Linked DNA regions of Homo sapiens: region 2 is linked to region 1. A link means that fine-mapping ties the variant in region 1 to the expression of a gene that starts in the linked region. Tissue or cell type: skeletal muscle. Region 1 holds a variant in brackets; the other region holds the start of a gene. All regions are shown on one strand. Distances are between the middles of the regions.

What was found. PIP is the estimated chance that this variant, and not a neighbour inherited with it, causes the effect.
Region 2: it holds the start of MAP7D3, and the variant in region 1 is fine-mapped to the expression of MAP7D3 in skeletal muscle (GTEx, PIP 0.92).

Annotation. Positions count from the first base shown.
Region 1 is chrX:136,200,499-136,208,277 of GRCh38, forward strand. It overlaps FHL1 (four and a half LIM domains 1), which reads left to right. Exons shown (of 6, transcript NM_001159699.2): 2 at 5,909-6,090; 3 at 6,518-6,692; 4 at 7,294-7,463. Among named protein-coding and RNA genes, the nearest start is that of FHL1, 7.3 kb to the left of the region's middle. The variant C/T (reference allele first, on the strand shown) is at 5,657.
Region 2 is chrX:136,247,698-136,255,814 of GRCh38, forward strand. MAP7D3 (MAP7 domain containing 3) reads right to left here and starts at 3,703. Exons shown (of 19, transcript NM_024597.4): 1 at 3,592-3,703. The coding sequence starts at 3,661. RefSeq lists a silencer at 3,420-3,809.

The DNA.
Region 1 (7,779 bases):
AAAATAGAGGCTCAGATAATTGGATCAGAAGCCACTTTCAGTGACTATCCACATACCAAAGTTTTAGAAACTTAGTTGTGGTAACATATCTCCATCTGTCAATCAACAGGCATATACTGAGTGATTCCTGTATACAAAGCCCTGGATTAGGTACTGGGGCCCCCTAGTGTATGAGCAGAACTTTCTGTCATAGAGAAACCCCACTTGTTAGCACTAGGGAATGTATCCAAGTCACTCGGCACCAAAGTATGTTAGCAGCGGGGAATCTGTGGGTCTGTAGCAACCTCATTTCTTGCCTCCTCAAGGAAGAACAAGGCAGAGGGAGAAGCCAAGGCAACTTTTAGAGCAGGAGTGAAAGTTTATTAAAAACTTTTAGAGCAGGAGGCCGGGCACGGTGGCTCATGCCTGTAATGCCAGCACTTTGGGAGGCTGAGGCGGGTGGATTACTTGAGGTCAGGAGTTGGAGACCAGCCTGGTCAACATGCTGAAACTCTGTCTCTACTAAAAATACAAAAATTAGCCAGGCTTGGTGGTGCACGCATGTAATCCCAGCTACTTGGGAGGCTGAGGCAGGAGAATTGCTTGAACCTGGGAGGCGGAAGTTACAGTGAACAGAGATTGCACCATTGCACTGCAGCCTGGGTGACAAAGTGAGACTCCGTCTCAAAAAATAAAATAAAGTTTCAGAGCAGGAATGAAAGTAAAGTACATTTAGAAGATGACCAAGCAGGCTACTTGAGAGATTCAAAAAGTGCATGGTTTGACCTTTGACCTGGGCTTTTATATGTTGGCATGATTCGGGTGTTATATTACTTCTCTCCTGATTCTTCCCTTGGGGTGGGCTGTCCGCATGCCCAGTGGCCTGCCAGCACTTGGGAAGTGCCGCATGCGTGGTGTTTACTGAAGTTGTGTGCATGCTTACTTTAAGCGATTTTTCCCTTAGCAGTAGAGCATTCCCAGAGGTAGGTCTTATACCAGTTAAACACCGCAATTTTGCCTCTTAGTGCACATGCTTGAGCCCAATTACCCACCTCCTGAGATCTCATGGGGACGTGGCTGAGCATCAGTTTCAGGTGTTTCTGTCTATTAGGGACCGTGTTTCCTTGGTGCCAGCTGCAACCAATTATTATTTTAGCGAGAGATAGTTTAACAACCATCTGACCTTCACCTGATGGCCGCCTGACATTCCTGGTTGGGTGGGGGGCCCTCTCTTGCCCTGCTCATGTCTAATACCTACTCTGGCATCCCTACTATGTACAGATGAGGGCTACACCGAGACATTAAAATTAGTCAAAGAGCTGCCCGAGGGCAAACATGCCCTCCACAAAGACAAGTGGTAAGGGAAGAAGCATGGTGATGATGTGTAGCAATTGTTTCCTTCAATGATGGCTGACACTCCCATTCCCGGATAACAGCAATAGGTCAAGGCAGACATATCTAGAAGTTCTGGAAGATTAAAGGCCTTCACATTTCATGTACTTAGAAATAGCTAAGGGGATAAAAAATTATTCCCTAAGAAATAAATGCCTAAGTACATGTAATTCTGTAAGGTTGAAGAGAGCCCAAAAGAAGAGGTAAAATGCTGGCTGGGCATGGTGGCTCATGCCTGCAATCCCATCAAGTTGGGAGGCCGAGGTGGGCAGATCACTTGAGGTCAGGAGTTCAAGACCAGCCTGCCCGACATGGCGAAACCCCGTCTCTACTAAAAATACAAAAATTAGCCAGGCGTGGTGGCATTCACCTATAGTCCTAGCTACTCAGGAGGCTAAGGTAGGAGAATTGCTTGAACCCAGGAGGTGGAGGTTGCAGTGAGCCAGGATAGCACCACTGCACTTCAGCCTGGGTGACAGAGCGAGACCCTGTCTCAACAACAACAAAGAGGTAAAATGCTATCTTCATTTTTCCCTATTCTCTCATTTCAAACAAAAGAAAGTGCAAGCTGGGATGGACGCGGTGGCTCATGCCTGTAACCCCTGTAATCTCAGGTGCGGTGGCTCACGCCTGTAAAATGCACTTTGGGAGGCCAAGGCAGGTGGATCATGAGGTCAGGAGATCGAGACCATCCTGGCCAACATGGTGAAACCCTGTCTCTACTAAAAATACAAAAATTAGCTGGGTGTGGTGTCACATGCCTGTAGTTCCAGCTACTCGGGAGGCTGAGGCAGGAGAATCACTTGAACCCAGGAGGCAGAGGTTACAGTGATCCAAGATTGCGCCACTGCACTCCAGCCTGGTGACAGAGCGAGACTCCGTCTAAAATAAAAAAGAAAGAAAGAAAGAGCAAGCTTTTCTCTCCTCATGAAGTCAAAGCTTGATAGTAGCTCAGACTCAGGGAGCCCACACTCAGGATCTTTGCATGTGTGTCTCAGCATTGTCATTTATAAGCTGGCTTTTTAGAGTTGTTTTGGTCTTGTGCACATCAGCACATCATTCATATTTTATACAAAATTGTGACGTGATCAGTATCTCCTCCAACTTCATCCTGAGCACACTGCGTGCATGAGGGTTTGAAATTGTTTTGTAACAAATAATCATAAATTTAGAAGTACGTGACGTAAGCTAATTCAGGTTGCCCAGAGTTCCACTTAATTTGATTTATTGCAAAACAAATACGAAAGTTCATGAATTTGACATAGACATTGTTAACATACTTTAAGTATTTCTAGCCTGTTTACTTATTATGCAACAAATCCAACATTCCTAGAAGTGCCTATTTTATCTAGACTAATTGTTTCCACACACATTAAAAGGACTCAAGTGAATTGTAGAAATGTATTCTAAAAGAATATGCCCTTTGAAATGATTCTCCATCTGGATACAGACTGCAGGTTTAAGTATAGAGTGGTGGGGAATCTAAGGTGTAAGGTGACCCTAGAGTTTTCAAACTCAGAGTGAAAAAATCTTGCCTAAAGCTAGGATTCAAAAATACCAAGAGATGAAACTCTTCTTATGGGTACTATTAACTTGGGGTTGATTCATTTAATTTTCCTTTTGCTTGGTTTAAGACCATGTACTATAGGAATGATACAGTGGCCAGTGACTTCATTGTCTGACATTTTCAACACCCTTTGTTACTTCTATCTTCACTGGTGAGCTGTGGATTATTTTATCATCTGGATGCTTAGAACTCTGAGCAAGTCATGTTCTAGAACTATGAGACTAAACAATGAAGAACTTTGCACTGGTAATATCAAAGTACTGAAAGTGTGTGGTTTTAAAGTGTGAAAAACATGGCAGTTAAGATCTCTCAGGTACTTTGAACCATAATGCAGTTTTCCTTCTCTTCAAAACCTCTACTTCTAAATGGCATTCATTGTGTTTTCTAGTGTTTTTTCTTTGGTATGACACTAGTTAACCTGTATTTCTTACCATAAAGCTAGGACTCAAATACTAAGAGGTTTGACTCACCTTAGGTGGAACTTTATATAGTACTTTAACTTAGAAATATTTGGAATCAATTTCTGCTTATAAAGGTATCAAAAGCAAGTGATACTAAAACGAGTAGGTTCAAAGTTGTATACTAAATAGAGACCTTGGTAAGAGAGAATGAGGGATTTTCAAATATGGTCCAGAAGATAGTCTCTGAAAGGCTAAACCAGCAATGGTTACTAGCCATGCAGGAAGCCAGTGCTGTCTAATCTTACAAATTCTGTTTTCCTGCCAAATGGCATTTAGGAGCAACTGATAATTTATTTCTTGCCACTTGCCGTTACTGGAGATTTATTTGGTTTCTCAACTCAGCCCTTAACAAGAAAGCAAGTCTTTGTTGAGGGCACAATATTATCAGTATGGCAAAGCTAAGACGAGGCTTCTGTGTGACACTGGAAAGACCAACAAGAATGGATTAAAGAGAGTGATTTTCCATATGCTGTCACTGGGACAGGTACTTTTCTCTGTAGACACACAGGCTAAAAGCAGTTTAAAAGCTTCCTTACCTAAACAGTACATAGTTCAAGGAGATAGGCCCTGTGTCCATTGCGTCTCTAGTTTTTGTTTCTAACCCATTATATAAAGAAACATCCCAGTTTGCTTTTTAGAGAAAAGTTCAAGTTAGAACCATTCTCTGGTCTTGCTAAGTCTCTTAATTGTGACACAACTGTCCTAAGCAACTGTCCTTGCACAAGAATGTCACTCATCTGCTTCATCTGCCAGCTCCTTAGAGATGAGGGGGGTCTGTGTGTCAGCAGGAGGCAGAAGGCCCTGTGGCTCATCCAGTGGCCTGATTTCCTTTGTTTGGAGGCTTGGTTCTGAGTGAGAGTTCAACAGCCTTTGCCCAGGCGGCTTCTCAAACACAGGGTGTGGTTTCCTTAGCTCACTCTCTGCTGTTTGGTTGCTCATGGCAACAAGATCCAAATAACTTGGACATGTGTTTGTATAAAAAAAACCTGGGAATGGAACCCAAAGTGAGACTTTGGGGCTTTCAGTTAGTGGAAGAGCTGCGGTGAGTACCAGGCAACTGCTCATTTATTTTCTCTCATTCTTTCTCTCTAAATTACGCTGGAAGTTTGCTAGCACAATAACCATGTTTGTGGATAGTTTTAGAAAGTAGTCTCAATTCTTGTATTTCCTGCACAAATGAAATAATTGCTATCTATTTACCCGTGCAAATTTCTTTTTCGGGGGAGAGGAACAAATTAGCATATGTTTAAAGAAGTTGAAAGCTAATAGAAACTCATATTTGGTACCTTTTGGGTGGCAGGATTCTATAGGAAATGCCTTGGCAAAGGGAGCTGCAGAGTGCCTTAGTAATGCTTGGGATTGCAGGCGTGTTGTCTAGGGCCACAGCCGGGGAGGGGACCAGGGAGGGAAGAGGGGTTGTTCATACGGAGGGAGTGGAAGGGATTCTTGGAATAATTTTTTCCAGACTCTATTTTAAGATTATAATTTTTAAGACAGCAAATATCCCAAATGGTAATACTGGTTACACTTCTATGAGCATATTGATTCTCACTTGCTTGACTCAAGGGAGGGTTTGATTTTGGTCACAAAGCCACCCGTGACTATGACAGATAATTCAAGGTTGCCAAACTTGCCTGTGCCAATTGACAAAGCCATTTATATAAGTCCTCTCTTGCTATATTGCTCTGGCCTCAAAAGGCAGTAAACTCTCTTGGACAAAACTCTTTAGGATCTATTCAGGGATTTAACACTTTTCTGCTAAATTGCAAGTAAATTTAAACATTTTAAACAAATTAACAAGGATTGCTTAGGTACCTGGTGTGGTACAGAATGAGCTGTCAGTTTCTATTCTGATGAATAGAATTTTATAGATAGGAGGAACGGGAGGCCTCCAGAGGATACTACCCTCCCTAAAAAGAGACGGAGGAAGAGCTGAAAGCGGGCAGAGAGGCTTCTTGATGACAACGTGGTGGGCTTAGAGAAGCTGCTGCCTGCAGGCGGGGCCCCTGCTTTCCTGCACCCCTTTGAGCCTCTGCCCCACACTCTTCCTTTGTATAAAACAACTGCTTCTTGCCTGCCTGCCCCATCACACCCCTCCACTCCATCGGGTCACTGCTCAATGGCACAATAGCACTGCTCAGCCATACCTCCCAGCATCCTGTCCCCTATCTGGTGACTTGGCCAACACAGGCTCTGATCCACTTGCCCCGCTCCGCATCTTTTGTGAATCAGCACAGTTGATATATCTGAGCAGGGG[C/T]TTCTACCATCTCCCCAGGGAATCACTAGCCATCGGCCATCTGGCCCCGCGGGGTGCTTTTGTTCCTGGAATCATAGTGAAGTATCTGTTGTCTTGGTGCCTGGTAGTCAGCTCGGCTGAAGGGGAAGCTGGGTCTTGGTCCTCAGACCCCATGGACTCCAAGGCAGCATTGTGCAGGTGCCTCTGGGAGCCACTGCTCAGGGTGCTGGGGCATTTCCTGTGGTCATTTGTCCTGTCTGCTTGCCCCCGCAGGTCCCTCCAGCTACAAGGTGGGCACCATGGCGGAGAAGTTTGACTGCCACTACTGCAGGGATCCCTTGCAGGGGAAGAAGTATGTGCAAAAGGATGGCCACCACTGCTGCCTGAAATGCTTTGACAAGTTCTGTGCCAACACCTGTGTGGAATGCCGCAAGCCCATCGGTGCGGACTCCAAGGTAACGGGCATCCCCATGTGCCAATGGGAAGGGCTGGGTTTTGGAGTGTCCTTTGCCCACAACCATGGCAGCAGCAGCTGGCTGTTAGGATTTCCCAGCATCACTGCAGCCACCTTGAGGCCTCAAGGAAGCCTCCTCCACTCCCCAGGCCACAGTGGCCCGAGCTGTTTAATGTGGGGCTTGACTGGATGGGCGCCAGCGCCCTTGCCAGCTCTTTTGATTGCATTCTAAATATTTCAAGAATTGTGAGATTTTTATCCTCACCTCAGCGTCCCTCCTATAAGAATAGTCACTGTGGGGCAGTCCCAGGTGTAAGGGACTGTGTCATCTCAGTGGTCAGTCCCAGGGAAATCAGCCTTATGGGAGGGCTCCTGCCACCACCCCCAGCACCCCTCATGGTGGCCCACCCTGTCTGCTTGGTTTCCAGGAGGTGCACTATAAGAACCGCTTCTGGCATGACACCTGCTTCCGCTGTGCCAAGTGCCTTCACCCCTTGGCCAATGAGACCTTTGTGGCCAAGGACAACAAGATCCTGTGCAACAAGTGCACCACTCGGGAGGACTCCCCCAAGTGCAAGGGGTGCTTCAAGGCCATTGTGGCAGGTACTGCCTCCTTCCCACCCCGGGTTCCCAGGGAGGAGGCCCTGAGGGCAGACGTGATGTGGGCTTGCTTATCATGGTGGGGCTAACGTTGCTCTGAGCTGCTTTGAGATCTTAGCATATATATGTACACATATACATACACGTATATATGCGTACACATATATGCTCGCACACACGCACACACTCGGAGACTAAAGAACACTGGCGAGAACAGCCTGTGGCAACAGAATGAAGTGAACAGTATGTAGCGCTTTCTCATTTGGGCGTAGTAAGTGATGAAAGCATGCTTCTTCCTCAGGGTGTCATTCTGGGCCAGGCAGTCCCTGATTTAATGTCTAAGTGCACGCAGGGTATAGAGGTGGGGGAGTGGGGGATTCAGGCACTGGATCCTAAAATAATAATGCTGGGGTCCCCACCCATGACAGAAATCCTGGGTTGGCACAAGCACAAGTAGAACACAGGTAGGTTAGTTGGAGGTGTGAGGCCAGTAACTGCAGGGCCTGCATCCCCTCACCTCTGGAGGGCCTGGGGAGGGGAGCTGAGTGGATGCAGCCCCCTGCAGAGCCTGTCAGTGGGGCTATCCAATTGCTTCCCTCTGCAGGAGATCAAAACGTGGAGTACAAGGGGACCGTCTGGCACAAAGACTGCTTCACCTGTAGTAACTGCAAGCAAGTCATCGGGACTGGAAGCTTCTTCCCTAAAGGGGAGGACTTCTACTGCGTGACTTGCCATGAGACCAAGTTTGCCAAGCATTGCGTGAAGTGCAACAAGGTATGCTTTCAAGGGAGTTCTGCATTGACCGTTGTTTCTAGAAGTGTTTGACAGTTTGCAGAGCACTTCCACACACACTATCCCATTCCATCCTCACGACAGCCCTGTGACGTAGGAATTATTATTCCCGTTTTACAGATGAGGAGATCGTGGATTAGGAAGCAGTGCCACAGCCAAGTCAGGCTGTCAGTACGCATCCTCAGCCTGGTGGTGCGGGTGGCCCGTATGGCATGCTGAGCTGGGCAGCCCTGGCTCTAGAAGCCTGCCTCCACCACTTAGGGGCTGTGTAACCTCACATAGGGGCTCACCTTCTCCG
Region 2 (8,117 bases), 47 kb after region 1:
GGCAATTCCATGGACCACAATTATTTTCTGAATTTGAGCACTAGTATATTAACAAAAATTCTTGGTCTATAGACACTCCTATATACCCACTTGCAACATTTTTATGTGAGTGCAGAGAAAACAATAAAGTACTTGTAGTATTGTTTTTACACATTCAGTTCTCCTGCTTAGAAGTCCCAAGGATAGTCCGTATTTGACACTATTTAGCTGATAATTTCCCTCAAAATCTACATTTTTGGCCCAGAGTGGTGGCTCATGCCTGTAATCCCAGCACTTTGGGAGGCCAAGGCAAGTGGATCACTTGAGGTCAGGAGTTTGGAACCAGCCTGGCCAACATGGCAAACTCCCATCTCTAAAAATACAAAAATTAGCTGGGTGTGGTGGTGCATGCCTGTAGTCTCAGCTACTCAGGAGGCTGAGCCCAAGAGTTTGAGGCTGCAGTGAGCCTTTAGCATCCCACTGCACTCCAGCCTGGGCAACCCTGTCTCAAAAAAAGTATACTTTTACCAGGCTAATTAAAAATCTTATTAAACAGAAATAACCTTAGAAGTAGCTGTGGTGAGAATAATGAACCGAATCATATAAAGGTTAATGTGGTAGTAGTATCAAATCTGATTTTTAGACCTTTGTATCCAAATTCCTACTGGTAAGAAATACATTAACAGAAAGGACAGGGTTTAAAAATTATTTAAAATGTCCAGAAAATGGGATAACACCTTTATGTCTGGATATAATAAAGTCAACATTTTATTCAACTTCATTGAATGAAAGAATTTACTTAACATGCATTTAAATGAATGAGGGAATTTACTTAATATTCAGTTAAAAGTAACAGCAAGGTATTTCTGTAGTCCTTATACTAATTCTAAATCCAAAATTAAAGTAAAAGTTATATTTTGCCCAGAGATTAAATAAGAAAATGTGTAGTGTATTACTAAAACTGAATTATGAATCTTAATCTGTATTTATAGAACTTTTCTAAAAACTTCCATAACACATATTATATACCATTTCACCATTTACAAAGTTCATTTGTATTACTTCATGTAATTCTTACAACAATCCTATAAAGTGGACGTAATTATTTTCCCCAATTTTTTTTATAGTTGAAAAAACTGAAGCTAAACATAACTTTCCCAGTTCACACAGGTAGTAAGTGGTGAAGCCAGAACTTGATTTAACTGTAAATTTCAAAGCAACTTTATTTTGAAATATTAAGAAAAAATAACAGGAAAAGAAATCTGCCATCAGAGAACCATAAAAATCAGGCAGATTCACAGAATTTTGCCTCAAATAGCAAAAGCCAAAGTCATAGGGCTGAGACTTTCAGAAGACCTCCAAGTTCAAACCAAAGATAGCATGTCTTGAAGACAAAACTGGAGACAATTTTCTACCATTTAGAGCTGTCTACAATGGAATGGCTACTTGGAAAAATATTAAGCTCCTCATGAGAGTGCCCATTCAAGTGGCAGAAGTGCCCCAGGATTTTACAGCTGGGACTCTGGATGCCTGACAAGATCATCTTAAGGTTTCTCCAACTCTAAAATTCTATGATAATCTAGCTGTCAATCTCCGTAGCTTTTTCTGCATTGGTAGAAATTATTCTTTGAAAAAGTTATTCTAAACTGAGAAACACTGGTGAATTTAGAAAAACAAGAAGGGAAAGGTGATACGTCAGTGGCAAGTTTCTTATGCTCATCTGGTTGAAATATTCAAATAAATTTTTATTTTAAAACAATTCTGCATAAAAATATAAACACGTGTTTTGTTAAATATTTGGTATGCTACAACCTCAGCACAGTGCTATGCACAGAAAACATCACTCAACAAATATATATTTACACTTTATATGTAACACATATATATATACATGTATCTATTGCATGCATACATAAATGTATAAAATAAATGTATTTTGACTGTGCTATGCATTTATATGTTATGTATTCAAGACAGTTTTAACTCTTGCTGCCAGACTGCCAGCAGAAGATGAAAACAACATTTTAGCAAAAACATCTGTCTCCTTGACCCCTTCAGGAAAACGCTGAGATCTAAAGGGCAGTTCTGGTCAAGTTGGTGCTCTGTGAAAAAAGTCTAACATGCGATATTTACAATTCCTAACATGAAGTGGGCAGCAAGGTTTTAAACCAGGGTCCTAGGTTAAGACTTTTACATGGCTCTTAAGTTTTTGGTTTGAAATGCTGTGAATTCCAGTATCTGTCCCATATATAATTTTAAAACACTTTCCAACATCTGATATACAAATGCTTTTAGGGGTTTATCCGGTTCACAGCTTCTTCACCATATTGGAGTAATGCTGGTTAATCTAAATCACTGAAATAAACCAGTGCCTGAGAGCCACAGGTACCAATAAGCAACACAATTTATTGGAGACTGTCTTTCTAGGTGAACCATAAGTATAGACACGGAAGGAAGATTCTTTTCTCCCTAATGAATGGTGAAAGTGTATGTAGTATATGCTTCTGACACAGTCTTTGGAGAGCTGATTCAAAGTCTTCTCAAGTAACATATAGCTTCCCAATCGTAAACAATCTAACTTTTTAATTGCAAATGCAAAAAAACCCCTAAGAAATTCAATTAAAATTAATAAAATCGTTTTATTCGCGCTCATAGCAGAGGGAACTAGTCTAACAGGCTAAAAGCAACCTCCTGAAAGGAAGAAATCCTATCTCAGGTAGTGGAGCAGTCTCCTGGACCAAGCAATGTGCTGTCAAATTGTATAAGATTAACGGTTTTCGAGGAGGGAAAAACGTTTTGGCGATGGGACTAGTTGAGGAAAAAGCACTCTGAAGTGCTGATTCCCGTTCAGTTCAGCCTAGAGACTGCAAGATGTCCCACAGAAGATGACATCTTGTTGAAGTCATGTGCTACAGCAGGCAAATCAGGAGATGCAAAGAGCCAAGTTTCATCCCAACTTTTAAAGCAACTTTTAAGCATCCCCACCCTCACCCAGCTTCCTCCCTGGACCTTGACCGGGAGGGTGCAGGAGGTAAGCCTTTGGGAGAGGCAAGGACTGCGACAGTAAAAGCGCCTAAACTCGCCCACGACCCGGGCTGGGGGATAACTCAAACTTTCCGTGCCTGGAAAGGCTGCCTGGCGGCGGAGGCGGCGCCGGCGCGCGGAGTCCCTGCGGGCGCCCGCACATCCCAGGCAGCTGTGCGTTCGTTGGGGCGGTTGCGCGGGCGGCCACCGCCCCCCAAGGGCAGATGGGGCACGGGGCGGTCCGCGGGGTCCGGCTTCCAGCCGCCCCCGCCCCGCCCGTCGAAGCAGAGCCCGTGAGTTGCCTCGCGCCGCGTCCGCGGGGCTCAGACCGTTGGCAGCGGCAGTTCGACCGTTGGCGGCGGGACTCAGGCGGCTCGCGGCGTCGGCTGACAATTTCAACCCCCCGCCCCCGCCCCTGTCCCATCCCAGGGCACTCCGGCGGGGGTGAGGGGAGGACCAGATAGCACGAGGCGACTCCAGGGAAAAGTTTTGTGGCGCCCGCTGCGCCGCTCCGACGGCCCGGGGACTGCGGGAACCCTGCCTCCCACGCGGGCCCGAACCACCCCCGGGAGCCACCCGCCCGCTCACCCATCCGTGCCCGCAGCTCTCTCAAGGATGGGCTGCCGCCAGCGCCAGCTGCGGCGCCGTCCGCCATCATCGGAGTCGGGACCGGAGGCGGTGGTGGCTCTCCGCATACATTGCGCAGGCGTCGGCGCGGCCTCCGCTTGGGTCGTGGCCGGGCTGCCGGTGGGCGGGGCGGGGCGGGGCGGGGCGGGGCGGGGCCCGAAGGGCCACCGCGCCCGCCTCGGACCTGCGAACCGGGCAGGATTGCCCCTTGCGTCCCACGTCCTGACCGGCTGGGCAGCGACTACCTGGTCTAAAGAAACCCTCTCCTATGTTCCGTGCTCTGCCCCTACTGCATTGTGAGGACTAGCCAATCAGCACCCAGCTTGGCCCCCCCAACATTCCTTTCTTCACCTTTACCTAGCAACACAGTAACATTCCTTCCTCATTCATTCATTCATTTAAAGAACATTTACGGCGTGCCTCCTGGGTGCGCTTGTATCATGAGTTTACTAGTCCTTGAAACATTACACAAAGAAAGACCCAAGTTGGGGGAAGAAGCCTAGGGAGAGGTTGGGAGTCGCAGGCTTGCTTTGAGGTGCTAGGGGCCCCATCATGAGTAGGCTTCCCTAAACTGTTGCACAATAAATCATGACACATAGGTCTCAAAGTTGGGTGAAATATCTTTAAGATGTTTGTGAGTCTTCAAAGAGAGGCAGAGGACTTATTGGCATCAATCTCTCCGGATTTTGGGAGAGACTCTACCAGGTTGCAGAATGTTTTTCCCATTCACAAGGAAAACCGTCATTGGCCTGAGGCTCCTTTAAGGGGCAGACCTCACTTCATGGGGGCTTGCCCTTATGAGGTGGAGTCACCACTGTTGTGAGTGTGTGTGTAGTGACATAGTTGTAGGCACGCAGTTTATGGTTGGGGCCATTAAGTGTGGTGCAGGAGATCCCAAAATGGGGCTGGACCACTTGTGAGATGGGCACTTTGGCGAGACCACTGAGTCTCCAAATGACATGGGAGCTGTAAAATGGAAGAAGCTAATAATAGCATATATTACATATGTTAGCAATGATAGCATAAGTTACATATATTAATATATAATATATATAATATGTAATATGGGGCAGGCACGGTGGCTCATGCCTGTAATCCTAGCATTTTGGGAGGCTGAGGTGGGTGGATCATTTGAGGTCAGGAGTTCGAGACTAGCCTGGCCAACATGGTGAAACTCCGACTCTACTAAAAATACAAAAATTAGCCGGGCATGGTGGTGGGTGCCTGTAATCCCAGCTACTTGGGAGGCTGAGGCAGGAGAATCGCTTGAACCCGGGAGGTGGAGTTTGCAGTGAGCCATGATAGCACCACTGCACTCCAGCCTGGGTGACAGAGCGAGACTCTGTCTCAAAAAAAAAAAAAAAAAAAAAAAGAAAAGAAAAGAAAAAGAAAAAAAAGACATTACGTTGCACCTACAATTTTAACAAAAATTAAAACGTGGTCAATAAGTGTTTGCGATGATGTAGATTAATACAAGTGGGGGGCCAGGCACGGTGGTTCACACCTGTAATCCCAGCCCCAGCACTTTGGGAGGCCCAGGCAGGTGGATAACCTGAAGTCAGGAGTTCAAGATCAGCCTGGCCAGCATGGGGAAACCCCGTCTCTAGTAAAAATACAAAAATTAGCTGGGCGTCGTGGCGGGCCCCTGTAATCCCAGCTGCTCGGGAGGCTGAGGCAGGAGAATCGCTTGAACCCGGGAGGTGGAGGTTGCAGTGAGCCGAGAGCTGCCACTGCACTCCAGCCTGGGCAACAGAGCGAGACTCTGTCTCGAAGAAAAAAAAAACTAGTGGCAAAAATAAACAGTTTGGCATTATAACTCCCGAAGCTCTGCTTCTAAGTAAATACAGAGACCAATGCTTTGCATGATATCCAGGATGGTAGCCATTCATGATTATTAATACGACACACATATGATTAGGGTGCCCACAAAACACACACACATACACAAACACAAGTTCAGCTTTCATGACCTTATCTGGAACTCCGCAAACAGAAAATTTAGCAAAACACATCAGCTTTGTAGTTTCTTGCAAAAATGTTGAACCCAAATCTAATAATGAAGAAACATTCAGACAGAGATAGAGACTGTGATATAGTCCACAAAATAACTGGCCCCAATGCTTCAAAATATTAGTGTCATGAAAGACTAACAACAAAAATCAGAGAAGTGTTCCAGATCACAGGAGGCTAAAGAGACCACATGCAATGTATGATCCTTGATTACAACCCTAATTTTTAAAAGAAGCTTGAAAGGGCATACGTTACTGGCATAATTAGAAAATTTGAATATGAACTGTATGGTACATGATATTGTATCAAGGTCAAATTTCTTGGGTGTGGGAATGATGTTGTAGTCACCTAGGAAAATGCACTTCTTCTTAAGAAATAAATAGTCACGCCTGTAATCCCAGCACTTTGGGAGGCTGAGGCCGGCACATTGCTTGAGCTCAGGAGTTCCAGACCAGCCTGGCCCAACATGGCGAAACACCATCTCTAGAAAAAAATAAAAACACAAGACAAAAACCCAAAAATTACCTGGGTGTAGTGGCACATGCCTGTAATTCCAGCTACTCGGGAGGCTAAGGCAAGAGAATCGCTTGAACCCAGGAGGCGGAGGTTGCAGTGAGCTGAGATTGCCTGCTGCACTCCAGCCTGGGAGACAGAATGAGACTTTGTCTCACGAACACAAAAAAAGACATAAATATTGAAGAATGTAGGGGTAAAGATTTGAGGTTTTTCCAAATAAGAAGTTAGATAATTTTTTCTTTATTTTTTGAGATGGAGTCTCACTCTATCACCCAGGCTGGAGTGCAGTGGTACAGTCCTGGCTCACTGCAACCTCCGCCTCCTGGGTTCAAGCGATTCTCCTGCCTCAGCCTCCCAAGTAGCAGGAATTACAGACCTGCACCCCCACGCCCGGCTAATTTTTGTATTTTTAGTAGAGACGGGGTTTTGCCATGTTGACCAGTCTAGTCTCCAACTCCTGAGGTCAAGTGATTCACCCTCCTTGGCATCCCAGAGTGCTGGGATTACAGATGTGAACCACTGCGCCCAGCCGAGTTTTTTTCAATCTAGAAGTTTGTCTTCAACTTATTTGTAAACACTGTCACTTTGAAAAATAAAATTTGATTGGGAATTACACATGGGGAGGCACCCTACTAGTCTTTTCAGTGTTTAGAGCCTCTAAAGGCCTCAGTCCAGCCAGGGTGTAGGAGGAAGAGGGGAGATAAGACATCCAGGAATAACCACATACAGGTGGCATGAGTAGGATTTAGGCGAGTAACTGAAACGGCTTCCAAGGGCTAAGGGATGAGAAATCAGTCCTGTTTGGAGTGATCAGAGAAGTCTTTGTGGAAGAATTAGCACTTATTCTGGGCCTGAGATGGGGACTGTGGGAACCACCTCCAAAAGCGAGTAACCACGTCTTAATTCCAGCCCATGGTCGCTGAGTGGGCAGATGGGCCCATCTGTGGCCAGATATTCCCACTTTTCAAAATAAACTCGAAATCTGGATCTTAATGTAAAATCTATTTTTAAATGATGACATTAAAAGTAAAAACAAAAACAAAAACAAACAAACAACAAAAACAAACAAACAAAAAAAACGGCTGGGTGCGGTGGCTCACACCTGTAATCCCAGCACTTTGGAAGGCCAATGCGAGCAGATCACCTGAGGTCAGGATTCCCAGACCAGCCTGGCCAACATGGTGAAGCTCCATCTCTACTAAAAAATACAAAAATTAGCTGGGCGTGGTGGCACGCGCCTGTAATCCTAGGTACTAGGAGGCGGAGGCAGGAGGATCACTTGAACCTGGGAGGCCGAGGTTGTGGTGAGCTGAGATCGTGCTATTGCACTCCAGCCTGGGCAACAAGAGCAAAACTCTGTCTCAAAAACAAACAAACAAAAAAAAGCAAATAAAAAAAGAAAAAACATGGTGCAGGGCAGTGTTCAAATTTCCAAATTGCCTCATTTAAAAAATCTTTGAATAAAAATTCAAACAAGGTCCATACATTGCATTATTTGATATGCCTTTTAATCTGTAGATATAACTTCTTTCTCTCTAACATCATTGGTAGATTACTGTGAGATTTAGTATTCATTTAGTAGGTAAATTATTCAATTAATCTTTTATTAACCACCTACTCTGTGACTAGCAGTGTGGGGACAAATACATATGGAAGGAAGCCCTGCCCTCTAGGGTCCCCAATCTCATTGACTCTAAACTAATGACTTACATCAGGGTCCCTTTAGATGTTTCCTTGGGGCTACAGAAGCTCACCAAGGAGCTCCCACGAGACTGTACATTTCTGAGAAAAAAATATTGGAACTGAAAGCTATCAGCTTGGGGACAGTGGAGTTTATTCTGGAGCCAAAACAGACTCAGAGCTGGGAAAGAACCCAGGCGGCTCCTCTCCTCTCCTCTCCTCCCCGTATTTGGAAAGCATGTGTTCCCCAGCGAGCAGAGAAGAACTGGAATCCTGCTCGC